Regions from separate parts of the Homo sapiens genome. Here region 1 is linked to region 2. Evidence: fine-mapped expression QTL. A gene starts in region 2. The other region holds a variant in brackets. All regions are shown on one strand. Distances are from middle to middle.

The links. PIP is the estimated chance that this variant, and not a neighbour inherited with it, causes the effect. A credible set is the group of variants that fine-mapping cannot tell apart.
Region 1: its variant is the best candidate, but not a certain one, in a credible set for the expression of CCDC71 in whole blood (TOPMed, PIP 0.74).

The regions. Positions count from the first base shown.
Region 1 is chr3:49,847,890-49,852,274 of GRCh38, forward strand. It overlaps TRAIP (TRAF interacting protein), which reads right to left. Exons shown (of 15, transcript NM_005879.3): 2 at 254-311. Among named protein-coding and RNA genes, the nearest start is that of TRAIP, 6.5 kb to the right of the region's middle. The variant T/C (reference allele first, on the strand shown) is at 2,042.
Region 2 is chr3:49,164,394-49,168,778 of GRCh38, forward strand. CCDC71 (coiled-coil domain containing 71) reads right to left here and starts at 1,938. Exons shown (of 2, transcript NM_022903.4): 1 at 1,874-1,938. RefSeq lists silencers at 1,700-1,759, 1,780-1,859 and enhancers at 2,010-2,079, 2,100-2,219.

The DNA.
Region 1 (4,385 bases), 680 kb after region 2:
AAAAGACAGGGAAGGAGGCCAGCCAAATCTACCCAAGTGAAAACTGGCCCAGGCAACAAGTCCATCTGCCAGCTACCTGTGGGTGTAAGCAGACCTCCCAAACACTCAAGGGCACAAGTGAGGCTCAACTGGCCTTAAACCAGGAGGGTCCAAAAAAGGTCAGAGATATTGCAGTTTCAGAGCTCTTTTCACATTCCTGCTCTCTGCTAAGGAGATCTCTTCAGTTGAGGTGGTCCCACCCCAATACTCTCACCTGGATTCGGCACTGTGGGCAGGTCCGACTTGGTGCTGTCTCAAACCACTGAATTAGGCTGGAATGAAAAGCAGAACAATAGACTGATGAGCCCTGGTTTGTCTGGGGACATAAGCCAGGCAAACATTCTGACCACGAAAGGGTCTGTTCTGCTCCTCCTTGACCCAATGCCTGCCCAAATAAGAGGACAGTAGCATAGGCAGTTACAGCACCTCCCGCAAGGCCTGATGGGTACTCAGGACTCCAACCAGCTGGCCCTTTTTTTGGCCCTGTTGGCTTGGCCAAAAGCTGTCCTTTAGGCAACATTCTGGGCTTTGACTGGGGTTGGGAGAGATGATAGTCGAAGCTCAGGGGCCCTCAGAGATGAGGACTCTGATAACACCCCCATTTTAAGCTGGAATCCCAAAGACTACACTTTCAAGGTAAGGATCAACCAGAAATAAAAGTAAGTAAGGGTACAAAAATAAAGTTAGATATAAGGAATAAAATCTAGTATTTGATAGCACAACAGAGTGACTACAGTCAACAATAATCTACTGTACATTTTAAAGTAACTAAAAGAATAGGAATGTTTGTAACACAAAAAAATGATAAATGCTTGAGGTGATGGCTACTCTGTTTACCCTGAAGTGATTATTACAGTGTATCCCTGCATCAAAATATCTCATAAACCCAATAAATATGTATACCTACTATGTACTCATAACTTTTTTTTTTTTTTTGAGGTGGAGTCTTGCTCTGTCGCCCAGGCTGGAGTGCAGTGGCACGATCTTGGTTCACTGCAAACTCCGCCTCCTTGGTTCAAACGATTCTCCTACCTCAGCCTCCCAGGTAGCTGGGATTACAGGCATGCGCGACCACGCCCAGCTAATTTTTGTTTTTAGTAGAGACAGGGTTTCACCATGTTGGCCAGGCTGGTCTTGAACTCCTGACCTCAAGTGATCCACCTGCCTCAGCCTCCCAAAGTGCTGGGATTACAGGTATGAGCCACCATACCCAGCCATAAAATTTTTTTAAATTAAATTTTTTGTTTTTTTGTTTTTTACAGAATAGAGGCAGGGTCTCACTGTGCTGCCCAAGCTGGTCTCAACTCCTGAGCTTAAGTGCTCCTCCCACCTCAGCCTCCCAAAGTGCTGGAACTATTGGTATAAGCCACTGTGCCCAATCAAAAAAATTTTTTTAATTAAAAAAAAAAAAGAGTGGCCGGGCGCAGTGGCTCACGCCTGTAATCCCAGCACTTTGGGAGGCCGAGGCGGGCAGATCACAAGGTCAGGAGATTGAGACCATCCTGACTAACATGGTGAAACTCCATCTCTACTAAAAATACAAAACATTAGCCGGACGTGGTGGCAGGCACCTGTAGTCCCAGCTACTCGGGAGGCTGAGGCAGGAGAATGGTGTGAACCTGGGAGGCGGAGATTGCAGTGAGCTGAGATTGTGCCACTACACTCCAGCCTGGGCGACAGAGCGAGACTCCATCTCAAAAAAAAAAGTAAGTAGTGGTAAAAGCAAAACACAGCTGAGCTTTGCATCATCTATGCAGGTGGTCCAGCAAAGCTCAAGCCTTAAACTTTAATTAGTCTCCTACTAGTAGACTCCCCTACTCCTAGGGACCAGGGAGAAACTAAGTCCTCTCTGGAAAATGATACCATCATCCTGGCCTCAAAGATTCCTATAAGTACATTTTCTTTTCTTTTCTTTTTTTTTTTTTTTTTTTTTTTTGAGATGGGGTCTCAATCTGTCACCCAGGCTGGAGCGCAGTGGTGTGATCTTGGCTTACTGCAACCT[T/C]CGCCTCCCAGGCTCGAGCAATCCTCCCACCTCAGCCTCCCGAGTAGCTGGGACCACAGGCGTGCACCACCATGCCCAGCTAAAATTCCCATAAGTTTTCAAATACCATGTACAACATATAATCAAGAGTAACCAGGCGCAGTGGAATACTACACAGCAAGAATAAATGAGTCTACAGCTAAGAACAATATTATGAATAAATCACAAAAACATAACACTGAGGAAGAGAAGCCAGATACAAAAAGTTATATTTTGTATGATTCTATTTACACAGTTTAAAAGTAGGCAGGCCAGGCCCAGTGGCTCACGTCTGTAATCCCAGCACTTTGGGAGGTCGAGGCGGGTGGATCATCAGGTCAGAAGTTTGAGACCAGCCTGACCAACATGGTGAAACCCCGTCTCTACTAAAAATAGAAAAATTAGCCGGGTGTGGTGGCGCACGCCTGTAATCCCAGCTACTTGGGAGACTAAGGCAGAAGAATCGTTTGAACCTGGGAGGTGGAGGTTGCAGTGAGCCGAGATCACGCCACTGCACTCCAGCGTGAGGGACATAGTGAGACTCTGTCTCAAAAAAAAAAAAAGTAGGCAAAATTCATCTATGCTCTCAAAGTCAAGACAGTAGCTATCTTAATATGGGGAGGTGGAGGGAGGTGTTGGTAGGGGTTGGAAGAGCATATAAGGAGGTTTCTAGAAGGTTTCTAGAGCTGATAATAGTCTGCATTTTTTTTTTTTTTTTTTTTTTGAGACAGAGTCTTGCTCTGTCAGCCAGGCTGGAGTTCAGTGGCACGATCTCGGCTCACTGCAACCTCCACCTCCCAGGTTCAAGCAATTCTCCTGCCTCAGCCTCCCGAGTAGCTGGGGTTACGGGTGCACGCCACCATGCCCAGCTCATTTTTATATTTTTTTAGTAGAGACAGGGTTTCACCATGTTGGCCAGGCTGCTCTCAAACTCCTGATCCACCCGCCTCGGACTCCCAAAATGCTGGGATTACAGGCATGAGCCACCATGCCCGGCCAATAGCCTGCGTTTTCCTGTTTTCTTTTTTTTTTTTGGTGGGGGGACTTTCGAGACAGGGTCTCACTCTGTCACCCAGGCTGGAATGCAGTAAAGCAATCATGGCTCACAGCTGACTCTACCTCCCAGGCTCAGGTGATGATCACCTCAGCATCCTGGGTAGCTGGGACCACAGGCACATGCCACTATGCTCGGCTAATTTTCTGTGTTTTTAGTAGAGATTTCATCATGTTGCTCAGGCTGTTCTAGAACTTCTGGGCTCAAGCAATCTGCCTACCTCAGCCTCCCAAAGTGCTGGGATCACAGGCGTGAATCAACACGCCCAGCCATACCCTGTTTCTTGATCTGAATTCTGGCTGCATAGATATGTTCAATTTGTAAACATTCTGTAAGCCATATACTTAGAATATGTGTACTTTTCTGAACTATATTATACTTCAATTTTAAAATGTTCTTTTTTTGAAATGGGGTCTCACTCTGTCATCCAGGCTGGAGTGCAGCAGCACAATCATGAGTCACTGCAGCCTCAACCTCCCAGGCTCAAGCGATCCTCCTGCCTCAGCCTTGCAAGTAGTTGGGACTGCAGGCACAGGCCATCATGCCCAGGTAATTTATATTTTTTTCACTTTTTTGTAGAGATGGGGTGTCACTGTGTTGCCCAGACTGGTCTTGGACCCCTGGGCTCAAGCAATCCAGCCACCTCCCAAAGTGCTGGGATTAAAGGGGTGAGCCATCATGCCTAGCCAAAAAAACACTTTTTTTTTTTTTTAAGACTGAGTCTCGCTCTGTCACCCAGGCGGGAGTGCAGTGGTGCAATCTCGGCTCACTGCAACCTCCACCTCCTGAGTTCAAGCGATTCTCCTGCCTCAGCCTTCCAAGTAGCTGGGACTAGAGGCGCCCGCCACCATGCCCGGCTAATTTTTTTGTATTTTTAGTAAAGACGGGGTTTCACCATGTTAGCCAGGATGGTCTCGATCTCCTGACCTCGTGATCCACCAGCCTCGGCCTCCCAAAGTGCTGGGATTACAGTTGTGAGCCACCGCGCCCAGCCAAAAAAACATTTTTTTAAGTAAACAGGTACACAAGAAAAAAAAGCACTATGAAAACAAACCAGAAGAAATGCCCACAAAGACTTTAGGTAGGCCAGGTGCAGTGGCTCACGCCTGTAATCCCAGCACTTTGGGAGGCCGAGGCGGGCAGATCACGAGGTCAGGAGTTCAAGACCAGCCTGGCCAACATGGTGAAACCCCGTCTCTACTAAAAATACAAAAATTAGCCAGGCACGGTGGCGAGCGCCTGTAATCCCAGCTACTCGGGAGGTTGACGCAG
Region 2 (4,385 bases):
AAACCCTGGTCTCCTGACCCTCTACCATGCTGGGGTGGGAGGAGAGGCTAAGGATCAGGGAGTTTCTTCAAGATACATGCTCAGAAATACCTCAGAGCCATCCAACCTGCTGCCGGGTCCCTGAAAAGATTTGAGCCTGGTACATTTTAATTCAACTCTGTATTTTCTGAAGCCAGAAACCTAGAATTACTCAGCTCTGGGAATACAGGCAATATCCCTGTCCTCAAGGAACCTAGGTTAGAAGGCCAGAAAAAGACACTGTTAAGATTCTTGGGAGTGAATGCTGGCATTCAGCTCAGTTTGCCAATGGGTCAGGAAAGGATTCCTGGGAGAGACAACACCTAGCTAGGATATGAGTGATGAATGAAAAATGATTAGATGGAAATGGAACAAAAAGGGGAATAGCTAATGCAATGGCTCCAAAGTGAGAAAGGGTTAAGGCATACTTGGTGTGGGATCTGGGATCTAGGTGAAAAAACAGGCGAGGATAGAGCAACAAAGAACCCTGAATGTTAGCCAAAGGGCCCAGACTTACACCCACTGTCCATGCCCATCTGTTTCTCCAGCTGCTGCTGTTCATGTGTGGAGCTGGAGTGGGGTGGGGGAATCTCCCTGCCCACCAGAAGTTCTGTTTTCAGTCTCTAGACAGGGTACTCAGCAACCCATTTTCTAGCTCCAGAGGCATGGAGACCTAATCAAGAGTCGGACTTTTCTTCAACAGAAACTAAAAAGCTGATGAGTAGCAGGTGCCAATGACATCTCTCTAGGCAACCAGGCAGACCAGGGACCAGGAAGCCAGACCAAGATCCCAAAGTTTAAGGACAATGGGAGCCAAAGGCTGCAAGTAGGATGGTGAGTCAAGGGGACATTAGCGGTATGCACTGTCCTACCTAAGACTTGGAGGGCCACAGACCTCAGTACAGCCCAGATGGAGGTGACTGAGAACACCTAACTACTCCCAGACTTCTTTAAAGAAGCTGTGGACATCAATCATAACTAACATCTAATACCCAACCCAACACTGAGGGTTCCCAGAAGCAAGAGGCAGCTCCCCAGCTGCACCAGAGCATTAAAAGATCAGCCAGGATCAGGCAGGTCCCTCGGGCCATGAGGCCCGTCTGTGTAGTTTCTTCCCACCGCTCTAATGCAGCAGATGAAGTCTTCAGAATACCCTGGAGGAAATGCCCTAGGGCTCTTTGTTTGGAAACATTCTTGGATCCTCAGGTGTCTTGGGCACTTCCCCTCCCCAGAGACCGTTCTCCAAGCACAATCCTTGCACATGACTTTAGTTCTTTATTAATGTTTTTTGAAGGGATGTAGTTCCCAGAGCTGTGAACTGTAGAAGAGAGAGGGACCTATTTCCCACCCTCACACGCGCCCCAGCGCAAATATTTGGGGTGACCTGGGGGCTCTTCCACCCAGGTTAGGCTGGGCTCTTGGGAGGGGTTTTCTGGGCTTTCGAGAAGCTTCGGAAACAGAGGCTCCTGCCCGGCCTCCGACTTCCCTTCACACGTGCCCCCGGGGAAGGCAGGAGAAGTTGACGGAAGATAGGGCGTGAGAGAGGCGCCACACAGGCAGACCGGGGGAGGGGGCAGATCGGGGCCCTCAGGCTGGGAATGCACGTCCTTAGGGCCCAAGCCGTGAGGCGGGGGTCACTGAGGCAGCGAAATGTACAGGGTGAACGGTGCTAGCCCTACCGGGACCGCACAGCCCCAGGGTGGGGTCGCTGGGCGCGGGGTGGGGGTGGGGTGGGGGGTCTCGGCCAGGCCGGCGGAGGACGCGGGTCCGGGAAGAGTTGGCCGCTTGCCCGTCCGCCCTGCCGCCTCGCGGGCCGCCCCTCCGCGGCGCGGCTAGGCCCGCGGCTCCAACCTACCGGCGCCGCCGCGGGGACCCAAGACGCGCCTCTGCGCCGCCTCCGCTGCTCCAACATGGCCGCCCGCTGCGCGCCGGAAGTGCACTGCGCTTCCGCTTCCGGGACCCAGCCCGCCCTACCGACCCTTGACCCCTGAGACCCCATTTCCCCACAAAGTCTGGGGGCGGAGCAGATTGGGTACCAAGGAGGACTGCCTGGAGGTGGTGGCCGCGGTGACTGCTCCAAACCCGTTCGGCCCTGTGCAGAAGTCTGAAGAACAGAGGTGCCCTCTGACGCGGCCCCAGGCAAGGACTCACTAGAGCCCGGCCAAGACTGGATTAGGGGTCATCTGACACCTTTTCTGAGGGGAGCTAGTGGTGCATTGACATCTGGGAGGGGCTCCTGACAAGGTTCAGGCCATCTTCCACCCTCTGATCTATCTTTAGCCACTGACAATGCCCACTTCAGTCCCAGACACCTGACCAGAGGGTGAAAGAGGAGTGCCTCCTGACAGGGAGTCTCAGGTGATCTCCTTTGTTTTGCAGTAAGGGTATCTTCTCCGAGGACAGCAGGCCTTCCTCTCTTCCTGAGAATAGGGCCTGTGGCACATGGCATGAAAGGCTGGTGTGCACGTGATCACAAGTGGTGCACGCAAGCCCAAGCGCACATGGAGTCTGGGGGCTCCAGTATACCACTGTGGGCCTGAGTATACTTGCTCAGGCAGGTGGGGGCAGGTATAGTCACTGGCCCAGCCTCAGCCCCTCAATGGAAGGAAGTCCTGCTTCCAGTCTTAACACTGCCCAGAACCCCTTTCCTTTTGCCTAGGAGTCTGGGACCTCAGTCTTTTTATCCATGCTCTTGGGCTAGTACGGGGTGGTGGTTATAGGACACAGGTCAAAATCAACCCTAGGGGTCTGTGACTTCAGTGAGAGGTCAGAGTGGTCTCCACAGCTCTGACCAAAGGTCCCATTAGTCAGAGGTTTGCAAGTCCAGGTTGGGAACCATCCTGGGAGCCCTGGTTTCATGGATGAGGTAGTGGGGGCATTTGCACTAGGGTCAGAGCCTGAGCCAGGAGGCAGAAATATTGCCACAACTCTTGGACTCTGACCCTTGCAGTGGTGCCTTATTTGGTAGTTGGGGTCAGGTGGAAGCCTATTGGCAATCACAGGAGGGTGGCGGGATGCTTCATTTAGGGACTGGGTACTAGCCCTTTTTCCTGCCCTTTTTCCAACCAGGATCCTCTGGTTGCTCTGTATTTTCCCTGCTTATACAGAGGGGTCCAGGCACTCCTAAAGACAAGTGCCTAGTCCACCCAGCAGTGCCATAGGCCTCATCTGGTGCCTCTTAGCTTCCCAGGGCCTCAGCACTAATGGTGAGGTCCTCGCTGCTTTTAAGTATAGCCAAGGTATCTAGCAGGAACTGCAAAATCTCCTGTTCCTCTGGGGTCAGTGCTTCTAGCCTTTTTTTCCTGGTGGAGAGAAAGCAAGAGTAGGGTCCCAGGGGCCAGGATCTCATGGGGTGCAGTCAGGAAGCCCCACCTTGGTGCCCCCAGTCCCCAGCTGTGGGTGAGTCCAGTCTCTGGCCGTCCATGGTTGAAGATTGACTGTTCACTTATTCAGGACCGATTCAACCAGTTACCTTCTGCAGCTTCTCCAAAGCCGGCAGTGTTGGCCTCCTGTGTGCAGGTGGGCCATGGCTGTGCAAACAGAAACCCCTTCCATGGAGAGCCAGAGCCCATCCTCCAGGGATAGCAACAGTACAGTTATATCCAGACCCCTCTCTGGTGATGTTCAGCTCAGAAGTTAGGGCAAATGGAAAACCAGGAAGGGTAGGTCCATCCTCCGGCTGTGCTGTGTCCCTTCCAGACATGAGAACTGGGGAAATGATAGAGATTAGGGATAAGGATCATGGGGGTACCTAGCTCCCTTTGGGGGTGGTAGGGCCGAACTTTTTGCCTCCTGGTGCCCAGTATGCCCTAGATGGAACTCTTTGGGAGCGCTCATCAGAGTGCAGTCTGACTTGACCTGGACTCTAGTGGCTGCTGAGCCTACAGGCACAACTGGGACCAGACAGGATGAGATGGGAGAGAACACAGGGTGATCCCAGGACCCAATCTTTGCTTTCCATTTGGCATCTTATATGGTTCTTTTTTTCCTTCTTCTTCCTTTTTTTTTTTTTTTTTTTTTTTTTTGAGACAGTCTCCTTTGTTGCCCAGGCTGGAGTGCAGTGGCGTGATCTCAGCTCACTGCAACCTCTGCCTCCCAGGTTCAAGCAATTCTCCTACCTCAGCCTCCAGAGTAGCTGGGACTACAGGCGCCTGCCATCACACCTGGCTAATTTTTGTATTTTTAGTAGAGGTGGGGTTTCACCATGTTGGCCAGGCTGGTCTCAAGCTCCTGACCTCAAATGATCCACCCACCTTGGCCTCCCAAAGTGCTGGGATTACAGGCGTGAGCCACTGTGCCTGGCCAATTTTTTGTATTTTTAGTCAAGCTGGGGTTTCACCATGTTGGCCAGGCTGGTCTTGAACTCC